2 separate regions of the Homo sapiens genome follow, and region 1 is linked to region 2. Evidence: fine-mapped expression QTL. Tissue or cell type: sigmoid colon. Region 2 holds a variant in brackets; the other region holds the start of a gene. All regions are shown on one strand. Distances are from middle to middle.

Region 1 (9,158 bases), 660 kb before region 2:
CCTGAGCAGCTGGGATTACAGGCACGCGCCACCATGCCCAGCTAGTTTTTGTATTTTCAGTAGAGATGGGGTTTTGCCATGTTGGTCAGGCTGGTTTCGAACTCCTGACTTCGGGTGATCTGCCCACCTCGGCCTCCCAAAGTGCTGGGATTACAGGCGTGAGCCGTCGTGCCCGGCCCGGTCTACTTTTAAGATCAGTCTAAGGCTGGGCACATTATCTCATGCCTGTCGTCCCAGCACTCTGGGAGGCCTAGGCCAGGGGGATCACGTAGGCCCAGGAGTTCAAGGCTGCAGTGAGTCGTGATCGCTCCACTGCACTCAACATGGGCGACAGAGCCAGACTCTTTTCAATAAAAGAAAATGATCTCAAGTGTACCCTGCGGAGGACACATGGGGCCAGCATGCGGCCTCCCCTGCCACTGAGCCCACCTTGGAGACATGGGGCCTTCCTGCCACTGAGCCCACCTGGGAGGGTTTCTGAAACTTGCAACCAAGAGTCTTGCTTGTACCACATGATTCTGCAACTGTCAGTCAGTACCAAATATTCACAGTGCCCTCACCCAGTCCAGAACATTCTTTTTTCTTTTCTTTTTTTTTTGGTGAGACGGAGATTTACTCTTGTTGCCCAGGCTGGAGTGCAATGGCGTGATCTTGGCTCACCGCATCCTCCACCTCCCAGGTTCAAGCGATTCTCCTGCCTCAGCCTCCTGAGTAGCTGGGACTACAGGCATGTGTCACCACACCCGGCTAATTTTGTATTTTTAGTAGAGACGGGTTTCCCCGTGTTGCCCAGGCTGATCTCGAACTCCCGATCTCAGGTAATCCACCCGCCTCGGCCTCCCAAAGTGCTGGGATCACAGGCGTGAGCCACTGCGCCCGGCCCAGAACATTCTAAGTAAGTGAAGGGAGGAAGCCTCCAAAAGCCATGTCAAGGAGGAAGAAGGGTGGAGAGTCAGGACCACACACAAGTGGCCCTGGGGGTGGGAGTAGGCTGTGCCCTCCCCATTCCTTAGGCCAGAGCTTGACCCCCAAGGCTCCTGAGCGGGCCCAGCCACTCAGCTAACACTGCGCATGGCACACAAGGGCTGCGGGCTGGCTCAAATTACATACAACACCCAACCAAACGCACGAGGCGGGTTACGCTTAAACCATACGACGGCTGTGCGGCATCGTTTTCTTTTCTGCCTCAATTTATCTCACTAGCAGTAACCCCGAGTTCAAGTCAGCCACACAGGGAAGGTGGATTTCCCTGCAGTCAGGGCACCACAGGCTCCACTTCAGAAGCAACGGCACGCAGAACCCAAAACAAAGAACACACAGCATACACCTGCCCTGGGCATCTCTGACATGGTTGGTGCTCCTGATAATCTGCCTTTTAAAAAAGTGAAGACTAGCTAGGTGCAGCAGCACATGCCTGTAAGCCCAGCTACTCGGGAGGCCGAGGCAGGAAGATCCAGAGCCCAGTTCAAATCCATCCTGAGTAACAGCAAGACCTCGTCTCTTAAATTAAAAAAAAAAAAAGGAAGATGACAGAACAAATTTGAAGAAATTAGAAAGCTATCTGGTTCCACAGTTCTACCTAAAAACCCATTCACACCACAAGTCCAAATTCCTAAAAGCTATGAAAACCATTTTTTCCTAACTCACTTGACAGCAAATCCTGGTCTATCATAATAACCTCATTTGGGATAAAACCTGACATGAACTGATATGGGGTTAATTACAGACTTTAATTATCCCACAGTGAGAATATTTATTCATTTAATTACAGAAATATTAATGTATTCAATTACAGAATACTTTCCCAAGTCTTCTGGGAGTATCCCACGATATACAGGTTATATGCTGCAATGACCATTCTGAAACCTGAAAAATTCTGGAAGTGTAAACATCTGTACTCAAGGGTTCAGATTACCAGCCATCACCATGTTTACACAAGACAGCCTAAACTCCCATAGCCTATGTTCTAAGGTTGCTGTTCAGACAAAACTTAATTAAGTATGTTTATATAAAATACTTAATTCAGCTTTCACACTCTGTTTCAGTTCAAAGAGGCTTCAAAGTACTTAGGAGGCTGCAGGCCACCTATTAAGTTTACAAGGAGGAAATCTACAGCTCCTAATTGCATTGGTTATTTTTATCTCCTGACTTGCCTAGATAGCAAAGGGAAACAAGTTCTTTTGCACAACCTCAGCAGCTGCCCACATTTCCTTGTTCTTCTTCCTGGGTGCTAAGTGACCCACAAGCTTCTTTCTTTATACGAATCTTCCTCTCCGGGCCCCAGTGAGGGTGCATTCTCCATCCCTCCCACCAAGATCCGTGCCATCTTCTGCTTGGCCCCTTCCCAAAGCTCACACTGTCTGTACCACCCCTAAGGATCTGTCCCTGTGCTGCCTCTGTCTCTCCACCCCTTGAGCACAAGTCTGAAGTTCCAGAAAGCAAGTCCTGTCCACAATAAACTTCTTAAAGAATGAAGATAACCACCTAGTATTTTCAGAATAAATGATTTGATCTGAGAGAAATCTTCCAACTGATGTGAAAGAATATCACACTTCAGCCCCCACTTCTGAAAGAAGAGCTTAGACTTTCTGACCAAATCATACCCAAAATCTGTTTGGTTTTGACCACAATGGAGACAAAGTGTGTGATAATGCTACAGTCAAAATGTCTCCGCAGGCCTTTTGTGATAATCAGAATTCTGGGATAGTCTCCTGTCTGGTCACAGAGCAGGCACCTGGACAGGCTAACCCTCCAGCCCTGAGAGGTACCAGGGAGCTGGTGAGGGTGAGGGCTTTTGTGTCGCTTCACTCCCTCTCCCTGTGCCAATACAGCAGAATAGAGTTACGCTTCCGCACCCAAGTCAACTGTGTTTAGCCCATAAACTTCACAGCCAGTGAAATATGACACACCTCCAGGCACCACTGGACAAAAAATGTAAGGAAAATCCACAAGAGAGAATGGGACCCACTGGCACTGGTGATCGATTCCGTGTGAACGGAGAGGACATCCAGGGAGCTAGAAATAGCATGCAGAGACAAAACTGACTCAAGACTGACTCAAGAGGACTTAAGCCGAGTGACCTGTCCACTCTGCAAGTTCTATATAGGTCACAACCACTGGCTCTGCTTCCTGTACTACACACGGAATCACACGAGTAGATGTTCACCGGGAAGAGAAACACTGAGGTGTTGAAAGACGAAGGGGGATCACGAGACACAGCCCAGTCTACCCTCGGCCAACCCCCCCACCCCCCAGGCTACAACCGCAACTACCTGCAACACGTGTGCACCCACCAACTCTCAAGTTCCCTGGACTGTAGAAGAACCAGCCCTAACCTCCAAAGTCCAGTCCTGTCCCTGCCTGCTCAATAACCCCAGATGTCCGGCAAAAGGCCAAGGCTTAAACCCACCTCCTGCACCGCTCACCTCCTGACTCCAGCTGTCGGCCTTCTAGGCACCGTCCCTCAGTCTCCGCTGTGGGTCCCCACCCAAGCTCCCTGCCTGCCACCATCCCCCACCTCACCGTAACATCTTCCCCCACCCACCCTGAGGGGGTTCCCCAAGCCCCAGGCCTTGCTCCGACTTGACCCTACTCTTATGACAAGAAAGTACCCCGACCCGGTCCCAGCCTCGCCCTCCGCAATCACCGCCAGCAGGCACTCACCTACGCCCGCGCTATGACCTTCGCCTGGCCCTGACCCACGCCCTCGGCAGAGACCCTCCCCTGGCCGACCCTGACCCACGATCCCGCTGGGACCCTCCCCAGCCCTAACCCACGCCCTTCCACTCCGGGCTGACGCTGCCCCCAGCGTCCCGGAGACAACACTCCGCGGCCGCACCCGCGCTGCCGACCCGGGGCCTCACCTTCGGCCAGGACCCGCCGCACCCGCAGCCGCAGCTCGCCCAGTTCCACCGTCTGCCCCACGAAGTCACTCTGGTCGCGGCCGGAAGCACCGCCCAGGGAGCCTGGACCCGCCAAGAAGTCGAGCGCCGACTGCAGCAGCGACATGGCGGTGGCTGCGCCGCACCCCGCGGCAGCCGGAGTGGTCGGGCTCGGGCTCCCGCTCCCTCGCCGTCCGGGTCAGCTCAGCAACCGCCGGCCCGGAGGTGCACCATCTTCCGCCTCGACGCCGTGACGTAGGCGCCCGTGAGGACGCGTCGCGTCAGGCGGCGACCCGGCCTAGCCCCGTCCCCTCCGCCGCGGCCTCACTTCCTGGCTGCGCGCGCAGGCGCGGAGGTCTGACGGAGACAGCGCGTGCGCGGCGTCGCCGGGCTTGCGATGAACTTCCGGCTGTCAAGCTCCCGGCCGGGCTGACTCAAGCGGAGGCGCGCGGAACAGTCGCCGAGGCGATTCCCGCCCAGGTAGTTCAGCGCCCCAGTCCAGCTCCCGGTACCGTTCCCCACATGGTCTGTTTTGTGGGAGGCTCCTTCTCAGGTGTCTCCGGTTTAAGCGCTTCGCCATCCTCTGGGTGGAGTCAGCCTCCCGTTTGCTGTTAGCGCCGCGTTTGCGAATGGGTTCGCGAATTTTTCTCTCAGTTGGCTAAGGAGCAAGGAGTTAGCGTGCGTTAAGCTTTCAGTAAATACTTGGTTTTCGTCTCATGGAGGTCGGAGTTTCCTGTGACGCTTAGTGAGTAAGGTTGGCAGCCCCCTCCCAGCAGCCAGGCAGGCAGTTTGCAGGGGAAACGCTGCTGCATTGCTCTGTCTTCCGAGGAGAGGGCCAGGGTCTGGCCTGGGGCAGTGACCAGTAGTGGGAGCCGTGGGCTAGAAAAACCTTCGTCCTGGGCAACCACAACACTGCAGAGACTGCCCTGTGACCCTCAAGGTTCGTTCTCACCCTGACATTTTCCAAGGCAAAAGCAAATCCTCATGAACCACTTGGAAGGGTTCGTAATGCCCAACTATTTGGAGATGAAATGGTGACTTTCCTTATAGGATAATAAGGAAATGGCTCACAGACAATGCATTTTTAGTTTTTGGCCCACACAGTATTTGGGGGTTGGGAGTGGGTAGCAGGAGGTGAATTAGTTGCTATCATTTAAAGACTGATGCCAGGCGCGGTGGCTTACACCTGTAATCCCAGTGCTTTGGGAGGCCGAGGCAGGCGGATCACCTGAGGTCAGGAGTTCCAGACCAGCCTGGTCAACATGGTGAAACCCCGTCTCTACTAAAAATACAAAAATTAGCCGAGCGTGGTGGCGGGTGCCTGTAATCCCAGCTACTCGGGAGGCTGAGGCAGGAGAATCGCTTGAACCCGGGAGGCGGGCGCCACTGTACCCTAGCCTGAGACTCCGCCTCAAAAAATAAATAATAATAATAATAATAATTGAAAGGCCTAAATGTTAAAAACCTAGTTTTCCAGCTTCTGTGGAAAAATCAAACCTGTCAATATTGGACCCAAAATGATGTGTGTTACCAATTACCTAGAGTGGTCCCTTGAGGTAAGACACAGTCATTTGCCTGACCAGATGGGCTCATGTATGTTACCTGCCTGGTTCCTATAGTCATTTAAGGTTGCAACCCCTTCAACAGAGTTATTTGTTCTCCAACTCAAAAATGGATTCTAAAGCTCACATCAGCCTCTTAGCCGTCCCAGAAGCTAACATCTGTTATCTTTATCATTAAAAGATAATAGCCTCAGCTCGTTGGAACACTTATCTATGTTATGGAATGAAGTATTGCATGAAGCCAAATGACATCTTTAAAAATATATATAACAAAAATAACAGTAGCAATAGCTTAGTTTAGGCACTGATTTATTGCTTACAACACCCTTTTCTGTAATAGTTCATTGTAGTGAAAACATCTTTGTGAAGAAAGCACAGTATAATTAACCCCCTTTATTTTGGGATGAGAAAATATGCTCAACAATGCCATTATTCGGCCAGGGCCAACAAGTGATACAACTGCAATTCAACGCAAGTCATGGCTTTTCCAGCCAGTGCGTTTGTCTGGTCGACTGTGGAATAGAAGGATAGAGAGCTCAGGAAAGAATCCCTGCTAGAGACAGATATCTGGGCATCCTCAGCATAGAGGTGGCAGTTGGCTCTAGGAGCTGAAGAGAGGACCAACAGAGATGGTGTACTAGACATAAAGAGGTTAGAATCTTCAGAGAATAGACAGTTTGTGGAGAAAGAGCAGTCAGTGAAGGAGGAAGAAAACCAAGAGAGTGTCGTAACAGAGCCAAGGAACGAGGATGTTCGGGGCAGAGAGTGCAGCTAAGAGTGTCGAATGCCACTTAAAAGTCAAGTAGAAAAAGAAATGGAAGATATGTGTTGGATTTATTCACAAGGGATCATTGGTGACCTCACCAAGAATAGCTTCATTGGAGTAATGAGGTGGAAGCTACATATTACCGTAGAGGGATGAAGAGATGATGAGGTAGAGATGGCAAGTGGAGATAACTCAAAATGTTTGTCTGTGGAAGAGAATATGAACAACTTCAGGCCAACAAATTCGGCACCCTTAGCTCCAGGGAGCTACAAGGGTGATGTAGTATTGAGATGTTTTAAGATGAGAGATTCTTGAGCAGCCTAAAGCGGATGGAAGGGAGAGAAGGTTTGCTGGTACAGAAAAAAGAGGAATAATAAGATAATTCTATCTTAATGAGATATCTTCTATCTCTTAGAACATAGGAGGGGAATGACATCAAGAGCATAGGTAGAGATATTTGCTTTGGACATAGGAAAAACACTCAGGAAGAAAAATGGGCTGCAGTTGTAGGTGACCTTATGTATTTATTGGAATGAAGGTGAAGGAATTCTCTAATGACTTCTGTTTTCATTGTGAATGAGGAAAGAAAAACATCAACTGAAAGTGAGAGGGGAAGTAGGAAACCCAAGATTTAAGCAGTGTCAAAAAGATCTAAAATAGCTATTATGAGAAACCTAGCAAATAACTCACTGGAAAGCATGAGAGCGTTTAAGCACTCATCTGGAGGCCATGAACTTATACTGGCATGACCTGGGATCAGCTGGACATTTCTAAACCTTGTAATCACTTTGGAAACCAGAGTCAGACTACTTATCTTACGAATATTTCTGGAGCACCTTTATTTATTGGCATTGAAGTAGATGCTATAGTAACACCATCTTAACCCAAATATCTATCTCCATATCTCATCTGAACTCTCAGATGTTTGTTCTTAGATACTGCTACATGTATAAACATGTATATATCCAAAACTGAAGTTATAGTCTTAATCCCTATAACTGATTTCCTAAATTTCATAGCAAAGAGTATTGCAAGAGATTAAGAGGATCATTTTGTAATGAAGAAGGGGTGAATTCATCGAAAAGACTTGATAATCCTAAACATTTATGCACCTAATAACAAAGCTCTAAAATACACAAAGCATAAACTAATAGCTGCAAGGAGAGAGAAAAATCACAATTGTAGTTGGAGAATATTCTTTCTCAATAAACGATAGGATAGATACCCAGAAAATCACTGAGGATATAGGCGACTTGAACATGACTGTCAGCCAACTTGACCTAATGAATGTTTATGGAACACTCCCCACAATAACAGCAGAATACACAATTTTTCAAGTGCATTAAAACATTAAGCCTGATCATATTCTGTTCTATTAAACAAGTATGTTATCTGACCAGAATGATATTGAATATTAAAGTAGAAATCAGTAACAGATTGGAAAATCCTTTCAATATTTGGAAACTGAATAACTCACTTTTGTTTTTTGTATATTTTTTCAACTCACTTTTAAATAACTCATGGGTCAAAGAAGAAATCAAAAAGGAAATTAGAAAGTATTTTGAACAGAATGAAAATGAAAATGCAGCATTTAAAACTGGTGGGATGCAGCTAAAACAGTATTAAATGTTAAGTCTCAAATCAGTGACCTCAGCAATCACCTTATGAAACTAGAAAAGTTGGCTGGGCACGGTAGCTCACTTTGGCAGGCTGAGGTGGGCAGATCACTTGAGGTCGGAAGTTTAAGACCACCCTGGCCAACATGGTGAAACCCCATCTCTACTAAAAATACAAAAATTAGCTGGGTGTAGCAGTGCATGCCTGTGCACGCCTGTAGTTCCGGCTACTTGGGAGCCTGAGGCAAGAGAATTGCTTGAACCCGGGAGGTGGAGATTGCAGTGAGCTGAGACTCTGTCACAAAAAAAAAAAAAAGGAAACTAGAAAAGTAAGAGGAAATGAAACCCAAAGTGAATATAAGAAGGCAGATAATAAGTATCAGAGTGGAATTCAAAAAAATAGATAACAAAAGCAATAGAGAAAATCAGGGAAACCAAAAGCTGATTCTTTGAGATTAATAAAATTGAAAAATCTCTGGCCAGATTGAACAAGAAAAAGGCAAGACACAAATTACCAATATCAGGAATGAGAAATGACATCACTACGGAAAGGATAATCGGGGACTATTATTAAGGACTTTAGGCCAACAAATTCAGCAGCTTACACTAAACGAACAAATTCCTGGAAAGCACAAACCACTTAAGCTCATTTAAGAAGAAATTGTGTTGGGCCCGGCGCGGTGGCTCACGCCTGTAATCCCAGCACTTTGGGAGGCCAAGGCAGGTGGATCACAAGGTCAGGAGATCAAGACCATCCTGGCCAACATGGTGAAACCCCATCTCTACTAAAAAAGATACAAAAATTAGCTGCGCATGGTGGCATGTGCCTGAAATCCCAGCTACTTGGGAGGCTGAGGCAGGAGAATCGCTTGAACCAGAGAGTCGGAGGTTGCAGTGAGCCGAGATTGAGCCACGGCACTCCAGTCTAGCGACACAGTAGGACTCTGTCTCAAAAAAAAAAAGAGAAATTGTGTTGTATGAAAGGATGAAAGAGGCCCTGACATGCATACAATTAAGGCATTGCAACATACTTTGTGTTATCTAACCATCTTTTTTTTTTGAGGGGATGGATACCCCATTCTTCATGATATGATTATTACACATTGCATGCTTGTATCAGAACATGTACCCCATGAATATATACACCTACTATATACCTATAAAAATTAAAAATGTAAATTTTTTAAGAAGGGAATAGATAACCTAAATAGCTCTATGTCTATTAAAGCATTGAATTTATAGTTGACAAATCTTCCCTTAAAGAAGACTCCAGACTTGGCTGGGCACAGTAGCTCATGCCTGTAATCCCAGCACTTTGGGAGGCCGAGGCAGG
Region 2 (10,586 bases):
AATAGCTAATGGATATTAGTCTTTTACATTTTCTGTTTACTGTGGTGTCAATTTGGCACTTTATATTTTTACAGAAATGTATTCGTTTTATTTGGGCTTTCTGAATATATTAGTGTATAGTCATTCATAATTTTCCCTTCATTATTTTTGCCATTATTTTCCATTTTTATTCTATATTTACTTTGCTTCTTCTCTCCTTTGTCATCAGTATTGCCTGTCTTATTATATTTACAAGGTCCAGTTTTAACTTTGAAAATCTTCTCTGACTTTTTAATGTTAAAAATGTTTTCTATTTCACTGATTTCTGCTTTTTCTTTATTTACATCTTGTTTCCTTAGCTATATCTTTAGTTCTTTTTCTAGCCTATTGAGTTAAATGCTTTGCTCATTTATTTTTGACTTTTGTTTGTATTCTGATAAGTTTATTCAAAATCATAATTTTTTTTCTCTAGGTACTGCTTTGGGTATGTCTCACAGCTCCTGACACACAGAGCTTTAAATGTTGTATAATTTCTTTATGATTTTTCCCTTAACCAGGGGTATTCAGTACTTATGATTTTTCTTCCCAGATATCTGGACTTTCCTTTTTTTTACAATTCTTTTATTTATTGTATTGCATTATAGTGAAAGGATACAGTCTTTATTATGCCAATTCTTTGAAATTTATCACATTTTCTTTTGTGGCTGAAATAAGCAGCCCGACTCCATTTTTTGATGTCTGGCTGCCAACAGCTTTTAAGTGTCCCTCCCTTTTCTCCTGTGCCCCACATCTGGACAAGCTGATAAGAAAGCCCGGGTGCTCCCTCATTTGATGCTGGTGGGGAATTCAAACCACAGAAGGCCCTGCCTGCACATGAAAACTCTCACCCAGGTCCAGCCCTGAACCACAATAAAAACCTTTCCATTCCTTGCTCTCTCAAGCCATTCTTGACCTGCTTGGGAGGCGTGCCCTGCTCTCCTCAGAGACCTCAGTTATGCAAACAATCCAAACCATTTCAAGCCCTGTTGGTGTGTATGTGTGAAGCCATCCGTTCCCAATATTTGAAACAAATTTTGGGTAGGTTGCCTCTGAAGGTGACCATACAGTAGCCTAGCACATGGCCTGTTTTTGTGAATAATAAGTGTGCACAAAAGAAATCTGTATTCTCCATGAGATGTGTAAACTGATAGATAATAGAGGTAATTCAATTAATTTATTATGCCATTCAAATTAAATAGACTTACTTTTGTATATTTAATCTATTGTTTTATAAGAGGAATTTGTCGAAAATTCTAAATAACACAGTTTAGTCATATATTTCTCCTGGTAATATTCTCAGTTGTAGTTTTATATGTTCTAAGACTATATTATTTAATGCATATATATATATATATATATATATATATATATATATATATATATATAATCATTCTATGTTCTTGGTCTGTTGTTCTTTTGAACTAGTCCCTAATATTCTTCTTTGTCTTTTGTGATTTTTTGGCCTTATTTCTATTTTGTCTGACATTAGAATTGCTATCCCACATTGCTTTGGGTGTACATATTTGCCTGGTGTATCTCTTTTCCATCCCTTGATTTTCAATCTTTCTGTGCCCTTTCTCCTTTAAAATGTGTCTTCTCTAAGGAGCATACAGCAGCAGTTTGTTTTTCGTTCAACCTGTGAGTCTCTACTTTCAGATCATTGAGTCTAACTCATTTACATTTATTGTACTCACTGTTGCATTAGGGTTTATTTCTGCAGGCTGGCCCCCCTCTGGACACACTGTGGACTCTGCACTCCGGGACCTGTGATGCACCTAAAGAAGCCAGCCACCCCTGTACTTGCCAGGAATGAAGGAGAGAGAATGCGCATGCACATGTACCCCATGACATTCCTACAGAGAGTGTTGGCCATGGCATGGTAAGCTCTGCCAGGATGGGGTGGCAGTCAGTCTTGTTTCCCACAGCAACTGCAACACCCCACACAAGGCCCACCTGCACATCAAATACCCTAGTTCATGTTATTGTGAGTGGACAAAGGAATAGGTAGGTCCTGGTTCCTTCTGAGCACATGGTCTGGCCTGAGGCCCTACCCTACTTTCAGCTCCTTCTGGGTGTGAGTTTGGGATCCATCCAGGGGCCTGGGAGTCCCTGGAGGGAAAGCATGACCCAGAGAGGGATCTTAGCAGCAGAAGGAAACCCAGAGACCCTGAGCTGAGGGACTCCCCAGAGGGCCGCAGGAGGTCACCCTCCAGGGCTCCTCCTTCCTTTACAAATTGGGAAGCTCCACCCCGAAGGCCAGCTGCCCACCCCTTTCTGGCTGCTGACACAAGTTTTGGGGGCCTCCTTCTTGGGTGCAGGGTAGAAAGAGAAGACTTTAAATACAGTGAAACGGGAGAGTGGATATTTAAGCCCAAAGCAGTCGGTCACCCCAGACCACAGGCTGAGCCCAGCACCATACGGCTGGATGATAAATGGATGCTATTTTTAAAGAGAGACGCTGCTAAGATCGTTTCTATTTGTTCTGTGGGGTTTGTCGGGCCGCTGTGCCTACGTGTTAATGCAGCTCTCTGAGGAAGATAAACTGGAGAGGCTGAGCTCTGAACCCACCTGATACCATCAAACACCCCAGGGAAAAAAAAATGCCACGTAATAATCTCGTGAAGGTTTTCTAAATTAAGACCAAACAGATGACCGGCTGTGCACGGCGCGTACCAGCCACGTCCACACGCGGCCCCATCAGTCTCCGTGGGCGGAGCGAGGGCTCCGGGAGGCAGCGTCAGAGCGCGCAGGCCTGGAGGGCGCGAGGCCGAGACCACACAGATTACCCCCAAAGTCCCGGAGGGGCAGGGCCCAAGCCCAGGATTCCTGAGCAAGGCCGAGGGGGCCAGGGGGCAGGATCCCGGAGGCTGGGGGGCGCTGCGGTCCTTCCTGGGGGAAAACAGGGGCAGGAGAGGGGCCCTAGGGCTCCCGGGCGCCGGCCACACCCAGGGGCCCCCGACACGCGGTTCTGCACCCCCTGCCCAGCCCCTCTCCTGGGCCAAGCCAGGGTGAGCCCAGGGCCGTGACACTGGAGAGCCTGGAAGCCTGGGGATGGGAGGGCAGGATCTTCACAGCATGGAAGGAAGGAGGTGATTGAGGCCTGGGTGGAAGGAGCAGGAGGGAACAGAGTTCGCCGCAGAGCCCAGGCAGCCCCTGCCATCGCTGCCCACAGGGAGGAGAGGCGGCCGCGGGGGCGCCTGAGTGGGCGCCGGGCACCACGTCCCACCCGCACACGCCTGGAGCCCCCCAGACACGGGCCCCGCAGGAGGGGCGTCTGCAGGGCACATGGCCGAGGTCCTGGCTGCGGGGCCCGGGGCCGCTCACACCCTGCCCGGCTAGCCTATGGCAACGGAACCGGCCCTGATTCGGGCAGCTGCTGCCCCATCCCAGCCCAGCTGGGTCACTTTCTCCCCAGTGCCCAGGGCCGAGGGCCCATGCGGAGCACGAGCGGGCGCAGCAGAGGGTCGGGCTTTCTCCGCCGGCGGGGACACAGGCGTCCTGTGCGGGAGCCGGTGGCGGCCAGAGAGGCACCAGGTCCTGGGTCGGGGGCCGGGGGCATCTGAGCCTTCCCGACACCGGCCTCGCGGGTCCAGGGCTTGGCCCAGGCGCCTGGTCTGCAACCCAGACGTTTGGAGTCAGCAGAGGCACCCACGTCCCCGCGCGCCCGCAGGAGGGAAGCCGGCGCGGCAGGTGCGCTCAGCCCAGGCCAGGGGAGGCTGGACCGCGGCCCGGAGCCACGCCAGGGCCCCTCCGAGTAGGGTGAGCTCAGGCCCAGGGCCGCCCCTGACAGTCGCCCCGCGCCCCACGCCCCAACCCGGCTCCCCCCTCGGTAGATCAATAGCTTTGGAAATCTGAAAAGAGCCCAAACAAAGAAGTGGGCTTGTAAGTATCCAGCTTGTATCAGCTGATAAATGGTCCCCTCTTTAAGGGACTTATCTCTTTAGGGCTTGCGGGATGAGGGATGGCGTCATTTGTCCTGGACGCTCGTCTGGACCAGCCAGGCCGGATCTATTTAAAAGATAGCGCGATACTGTCGACAGCAATAGACAGGGTAATTGCAGAGCGGCTGCCGGGGTATAAATTACACGGCTCTAAGTGGTGGAGTGGCCGCGGGAGACTGGAGAAATTCCTGACAATTCACTTGTCCCTCTGCCCTGCCGCCAGCTTATCACGGGCCAGCAGAAGACGCGCGCTCGGGTGAAAAAATTAAGTATTGATCAAATTAACAGTTTTTACTGATCTTTTTAAGGGAGAAAAGGAGTGCAACAATTAAATTTAGAACACAAAGGACGGGGCAGGGTAACTCTTGACCCTGCGTGGCAAAGTCTGTGACACCAACAAGCACGAAATACGGTCTAGGGCAGGGCGGCGTTGCGGAAGGCCGACCCGAGGGAGAGCAGGGGCCGCTGGGGGCAGCTCCCGGGGCCAAGGGTGAGCAGAGACCGCTGCAGGGAGGGGCGCCGCGGGCCCCAGGTCCCCCCAGGCTGCCAGCAGGGCAGCCAAGCCGGAGCCTCCTCTGCGAGGTCCCTGAGCCGCTTCTGGGCAGATTCCCTCCTTCCCTTGGGAGCCAGCAGCGGCCCCGCCTCCAGCGGCCCCACATAGCAGGAGGCAGGACGGACAGATAAACCGATTCACAGGTCACCAGGTCAGGGCTCAGCCTGGAAGACTTCCTGGAGGTGGAAGAAGGGGAGGGACCCAGCACCTGCCCCAGCCTGTGTCCCCTTCTCCTTGTGGGGGGACCCTGGGCAGGATCTAACAATCCCCAGCCTCAGTTTCCCCTCATGAAAAAAGGATGATAGAGGCACTGCCCCCCGGGGTATACAAGCAGGCACAAAAGGCACCCCCCACGGTGGGGGTATTACTGTCATCATGATTATTTTGGGTTCTCTTCTCTATCTTCTTTTCAAAAATCTGGTAATGTGGATCTATGCTTTAATAGTTTTAGGCCAGGTGCAGTGGCTTACGCCTGTAATCCCAGCACTTTGGGAGACCAAGGCAGGCAGATTGCTTGGGGTTGGGAGTTGGAGAACAGCCTGGGCAACATAGGGAGACTCCATTTCTGCAAAAATGCAAAAGTTAGCCGGGTGTGGTGGCTCCACACATGTAGTCCCAGCTACTCAGGAGGCTGAGACAGGAGGATCACTTGAGTGTAGGAGTTGGAGGCTGCAGTGAGCCGTGATGGTGCCACTGCACTTCAGCCTGGGCAACAGAGCAAGACCCTGTCTCTTAAAAAAAAATGTGTAAGGTGCTTAAGTTTTACAAAGTTCACATTGCCTTCATAATATACATTGCCGCCAGGAAGGAGCTCTCGGGTGTGGAGGGGGAAGTCTGTTCCTTCTGCAGACTGCCGGCCCCAGGCAAAGCCGTGCACAGGCCCACTGGGCCATCTGCCACCCCATCCCCCCACAGGATGGAGACACAGCTTGCTCATCGGGGACCAACCAAAGCACCATGGGACCCAGCCAGTGCCAGCATGCCAGGGACGGGGAGGCACAGATTCCAGCTCCCACAGGAGTCAGAGGACAGGGAAGCCGCAGCCACTGAAAGGACAGAAACGCACAACTGGTCCCTCTGCCCACAGGGACCCCCGCCCACCTCCAGGCTCTGGACGGCCACAGGGCCCCAGCAGCAGGGGTGCAAGAAGGCGGGCAGCAGGAGCCCCACCGGCTCCTCTTTGTACAGACGCTGCCATGGTCCTGC[G/A]TGGCCATTGGACAGTGGCCAGGACAGGCTCCCCACATCCTGGCGCCCTGCTGACCCTCCCAGGCTTTTGTCTATTGAAGGCTGAGAAGGGGCATGCAGAGGCTGGGGGTCCACCACAGGCCGGGGACAGCAGGGCTGCCCCACCCCTAGGCTTGGTGGTGCTGGGCACATCAGAAACCACTGACACTACGTGGCTGGTGGGGTGGGGCTGGGGTTGGTGGGAGCCCTGGGAAGTCACCACTGGTATAAATCGTGGCACAGACGGCAGACAAAAAAACAGCACCAAGCAGCCCTTGTCCTGTGCACAGACCCCTCCTGACACTGCAAAGCCTGGCAGGACACTTGGAGCTTACCCAGCACCGCGGGAAGCGCCAGCACACAGCTCCCAGGAGCCAGGCCCGGTCCCCAGTCCAGCCGGGCAGAGAGGAAGCAGCAGAATTGCAACTCAGTCCAGGCACCAGCTCTGATGTGTTGAGAGGCCTCAGGTAGGCCCATCTGTGGTCTACTGGGGCCCTTTGTCTCTTCCTCTCTTGTGCTGTCAGAGGAGAGTCCCACCCCAGAGGCCAGTCTGATCCTCTCTGTGGTGCAGGTGCTCAGTGATGGTCCACAGGACCGGGTGTGACCCCTGGTCACTGTCTGCCCAAGGCACGGCTGAGCTCAATGGGGACCAGCACCACCATCTTGAGACGTGGGGCCACAAGAGTGGCCGTCCAGCCTCTGCTGCCTCTCCCTGCTGATGTGGCCCATGAGGGTCCCTGCTCCTGCGCTGGGCAAAAAGTGCACACAGAGACAGAGGGACGAGGGGAGGGTTGGCTCCAAGGCCACTACCAGGCCACACCCACAGAATCACCAGGCCACCTCCAGGGACCATGCATGGTCTGGTGGGGGCTGAGTTCTGACTCACATCCTCGCAGCACAGGGCCAGGCTGAGGGACGCTGGGCTGGCAGGTCCCCTCTACATAATTCCATGCTGTCCGGATTTTTTATTATAGCCACGTATTGTTTTCAATTAAACTTTTTACTTTGAGAAAATTGTAGTTTCACATACAGTTATGAGAAACAACACAAAGAGATCCAGTGCGCCCCCACCCACCTTCCCCAAAGGTACCCTCTTGCCAAGCTGTGGCCAGTGTCACCGCCCAACGCTGGCTACACCGTCCAGATGTGGGCGCTGTTCCCACCTCAAGGACCCTCCTGGCCCTCCACTGCCCACCACACCACCCGAACCGGACACCACTCATCTGCCCTCCATTTCCACAGCTGTGTCACTGCAGGCATGCCCTCTACAGGGACCAGATGGAAGGGCACCTTCAGGGACTGGCTCTTTCACTCACACGGTGTCCGCCCGCCGCGGGCTGCTGTGGCCTCCACCGAGGCCGTGCCACACGGTACATGCGGGTTGCTTCCAGATTCCCAACTGTACTTCTCCCATGAAACTTCCTTTAAAAGGGGGAAAGACAGAGAGAGAGAGAGACAGAGACAGAGACAAGGGGAGAGACAGAGACAAGGGGAGAGACAGAGATGGGGAAGAGACAGAGACGGAGTGGGGAGAGACAGAGACAGTGGGAGAGAGAGACAGAGGGAGAAACGGAGGAGAGGGAGACAGCCCCTGGCAGGTGGGAAAGGCCCCCGGGGGCTCGCCCTGGGCAGCTCCGCACCCTCCTCGGGGCCTCCCTCCAGCATCGCATCTCCCCTACTTCAACGTCCAGGCCACCAAGGCTCCGAGAGGGGACAGGCAGCTCCTCTGGCATCTCTGGATCCAGTGGGGCAGGGCCTTCTTTTCCCTCACTGGGACTCCAGCCTCTTCCCACAGGCCTGGGCTCCCCAGACACCAAGGGCATCTGGAGAACACAGACACCGGGCACCCCTGGGCTCCAGCCAGACATCGGCAGGGCCCTCAGCCGCCTGGCTCTCTATCAGGGGTCCCCCTCGAGGGTCCCCTCACTCCCCTGCCTCTGCTCCTCCCCCCACCACTGCCCATCCTAAACTCAAACCCAGCAGAACCCCACCGGCCCGACACAGCTTGAGGTGAGGGGAGCCCTGAGGACTGCCCCGTGCCCCCACGTCTACCCCCAACTCAGACCCCACAGCAAACACGCACTGGGGGACCAGGTTCTTCCTCGGGGCCAGGCAGGAGCCCAGGAACCATGCTGCTGGGCCCAGGGCCCTGGAGAGCCACACACCCCACACAGGTGTGCCCCCTGCCTGCTCCAGACCCCCAGCCCCTCCCTCAGAACTGACCCAGCACAGTGTGGGTCCCTAAACAGTCCCAAGTTCCTGAGAGGGGAAGTCAAACCCTCCGGGGCCCCCCAACAGTGCCTCCTGCCCCATCCAGCCCTATGTGGCTGCAGGGAGCACCTGGGTGGTACAGCCCATCGTCCCAAAGAACTGAGGACCAGCCGGGCGCGGTGGCTCACGCCTGTAATCTCAGAACTTTGGGAGGCCTAAGCAGGCAGATCACATGAGGTCAGGAGTTCGAGACCTGCCTGGCCACCATGGTGAAACGCCATCTCTACTAAAAGTACAAAAATTCGCCGGATGTGGTGGCGGGCGCCTGTAATCCCAGCTACTCAGGAGGCTGACGCAGGAGAATCGCTCGAACCTGAGAAGCAGAGGTTGCAGTGAGCTGAGATCGCACCACTGCACTCCAGCCTCGGCAACAGAGCGAGGCTCCAAAAAGAACTGAGGACCTTGGCGGAATGACCTCATGGGAACCCCAGGACTGTTCTAAAAGAAACACCTGGAAGGTGCCCTTTGAGAGCCAAGCTGCATCCCCAGGCCCAGCCGAAGGCCACTGCTGCTGCCTACGTACCCCCTTTGTGAGCCCCTAGGGGCCCAGCCCCTTCTTGCCCCTTCTCCGGCTGTGGGGAGGTAAGTGGGAGAAGATTCTGGGAGAAAAACAGCTCCACCGAGGCCCTGGGCGGTGGGGAAGGCACAGCGGACTGCCTGCTCTGATCCGAGGCCTGCAGCCGCAGCTGCATGGAGTGTGCGGGAAAAACGTGGGGCCAACTCCAAACGCTGCGCCTTCCGCCAGGCCCTTGGCCCGGAGGGGCACGGACGGGAGCCAGGACCCCCACTCTGGTTGAGGGGCTGCCTGGATCTGTTTCCTCAAAGCAGAGGCTGACGGGGGCCGCAATCCCCAAACAATGAGGCTGAGAAAGGAAGTGGGTAAGACAGCCACGTTGGCACTCCCAGAGCGGCCACAGAAGCAGTTCTGCAGGCAGCACGTCCCTCAGGAGACGATTTTTAAGCGTGAAGAATTGCTGTCGTCCGATCCTTCTGGAACGCACCCCCTCCCGGTTTGATGCCTTTTCTCTGCATAGTAATGTGTCTTTAAAAAAAAAGAGCCACTGATATATGTTACGAGAAGTGTATCTCTTACACTGAGACAGGACATTTTAATTCCCCGACACCTTTTAGTGATTGCTTCAATTTCCGAAGATTTTGATAAAATCATGCGGTTTAAGAGCCGCAGGATGGAGCCCGGCGGGCGGAGCGTAATGAAATGCTGCTGTTTCACAGCCTTCACGTGGCACAGCCCAGCTCCGGGGCTAATAAATGCTGCGTGATAAATGTTGGAGTCATGATTGTAAAAATATACTTGTAATTGGGTTAATATGCCTTAAAATACTACCCATCAGTTATCTTTCTCTCTCCTCTCTGTAGCGTGCGCAGGGGTGCGTGCGGGTGCAGCACCGCGTTCCTTCCCCGGCCCGCTTCCCTCCTGGCCTGGCAGACCCTTCGTCACCGAGGCCAGGGGATCCAGGGTGCCGGAGCGCAGGGCCGTCGGCTCCAACCCCGCCTGGTACTTCACCGAGGCCAGGGGATCCAGGGTGCTGGAGCTCAGGGCCGTCGGCTCCAACCCCGCCCGGGACTTCGCCGAGGCCAGGGGATCCAGGGTGCCGGAGCGCAGGGCCGTCAGCTCCAACCCTGCCTGGTACTTCACCGAGGCCAGGGGATCCAGGGTGCCGGAGCTCAGGGCCGTCAGCTCCAACAACTCCGCCCGGTACTTGGCCGGAGCAGAAGCACAGTGGGACTCGGGCCAGCCAGGAGCCCATCGGGGGCAGGGCATGGCACCTGGACCTGAGGGACATCTCGAGTGTTTCGCAGACAAGGAGACAAGGCACAGAGGCCAAATGAGTGGCCCCAGGCCCCACAGCCACGGGAGCAGCACTGGACAGGAGGCTGGGGAGGCGTGCGGCCTCGTCAGCACAGGTGGAATGCATGAGAAAGAATTGTGCAAATAGCACAATTTTCAAGGGTGGGGACTGCCCTCAGCCCGGGGGACCAGAGCACCTCCCCTACCTCTGCAAGAGCCTAGGCGGGCCTTGGCCCAGCCCAGCCCACCCCGCTTGGCCCTCTGGGAGGCTGCGCCCCCTCACAACACACACATACATACCCACACTAGTCAAACACACGTGCACAGACACCACACACCCCGCCACCTGCCAGCCACACGCATACTCACCCCAGACACCTGCACAGGCACTCCGAGTCCCAGTGGGGCCAGTGGCGCTGAGTGTTGGCTCCCAGGAAAGAAAACGGCAGGGCAGAGGGTGTGGGCTGCATGGCGCTGTGGCGGTCCCTTGGGGTACTGCCGCCCCTCCCCCTCCTATTTCCTCTCCTCCCCCTCCTCCTCTCCCTCTCCCTTCCCCTGATGCAGGCCCCACCACGTGTGACCCCCTCTCCCACCTAGGCGAGGCCCCTCCCACTTTTCACTGGGTGCTATGGTTGGGGCACAGGCCACTTCCCTAATGCAGGGACCACTGAGCAAGTCCTCCCCTCGCCAGAGTCCAGGCACTCAGCTGAGCCGAGGTGGGGGCTGCCTTGCCAGGGATGAGCCAAGCCCTGCTGCCGGTTTTAGTGTG

Evidence for each region. PIP is the estimated chance that this variant, and not a neighbour inherited with it, causes the effect.
Region 1: it holds the start of TMEM175, and the variant in region 2 is fine-mapped to the expression of TMEM175 in sigmoid colon (GTEx, PIP 0.98).

Annotation. Positions count from the first base shown.
Region 1 is chr4:928,180-937,337 of GRCh38, forward strand. TMEM175 (transmembrane protein 175) reads left to right here and starts at 4,281. Exons shown (of 11, transcript NM_032326.4): 1 at 4,281-4,361. GAK (cyclin G associated kinase) reads right to left here and starts at 4,137. Exons shown (of 28, transcript NM_005255.4): 1 at 3,864-4,137. The coding sequence starts at 4,008. RefSeq lists a silencer at 3,923-4,242 and an enhancer at 4,403-4,722.
Region 2 is chr4:1,589,599-1,600,184 of GRCh38, forward strand. It overlaps a transcript of FAM53A not described here. Among named protein-coding and RNA genes, the nearest start is that of FAM53A, 89 kb to the right of the region's middle. RefSeq lists enhancers at 4,512-5,027, 9,115-9,941. The variant G/A (reference allele first, on the strand shown) is at 5,719.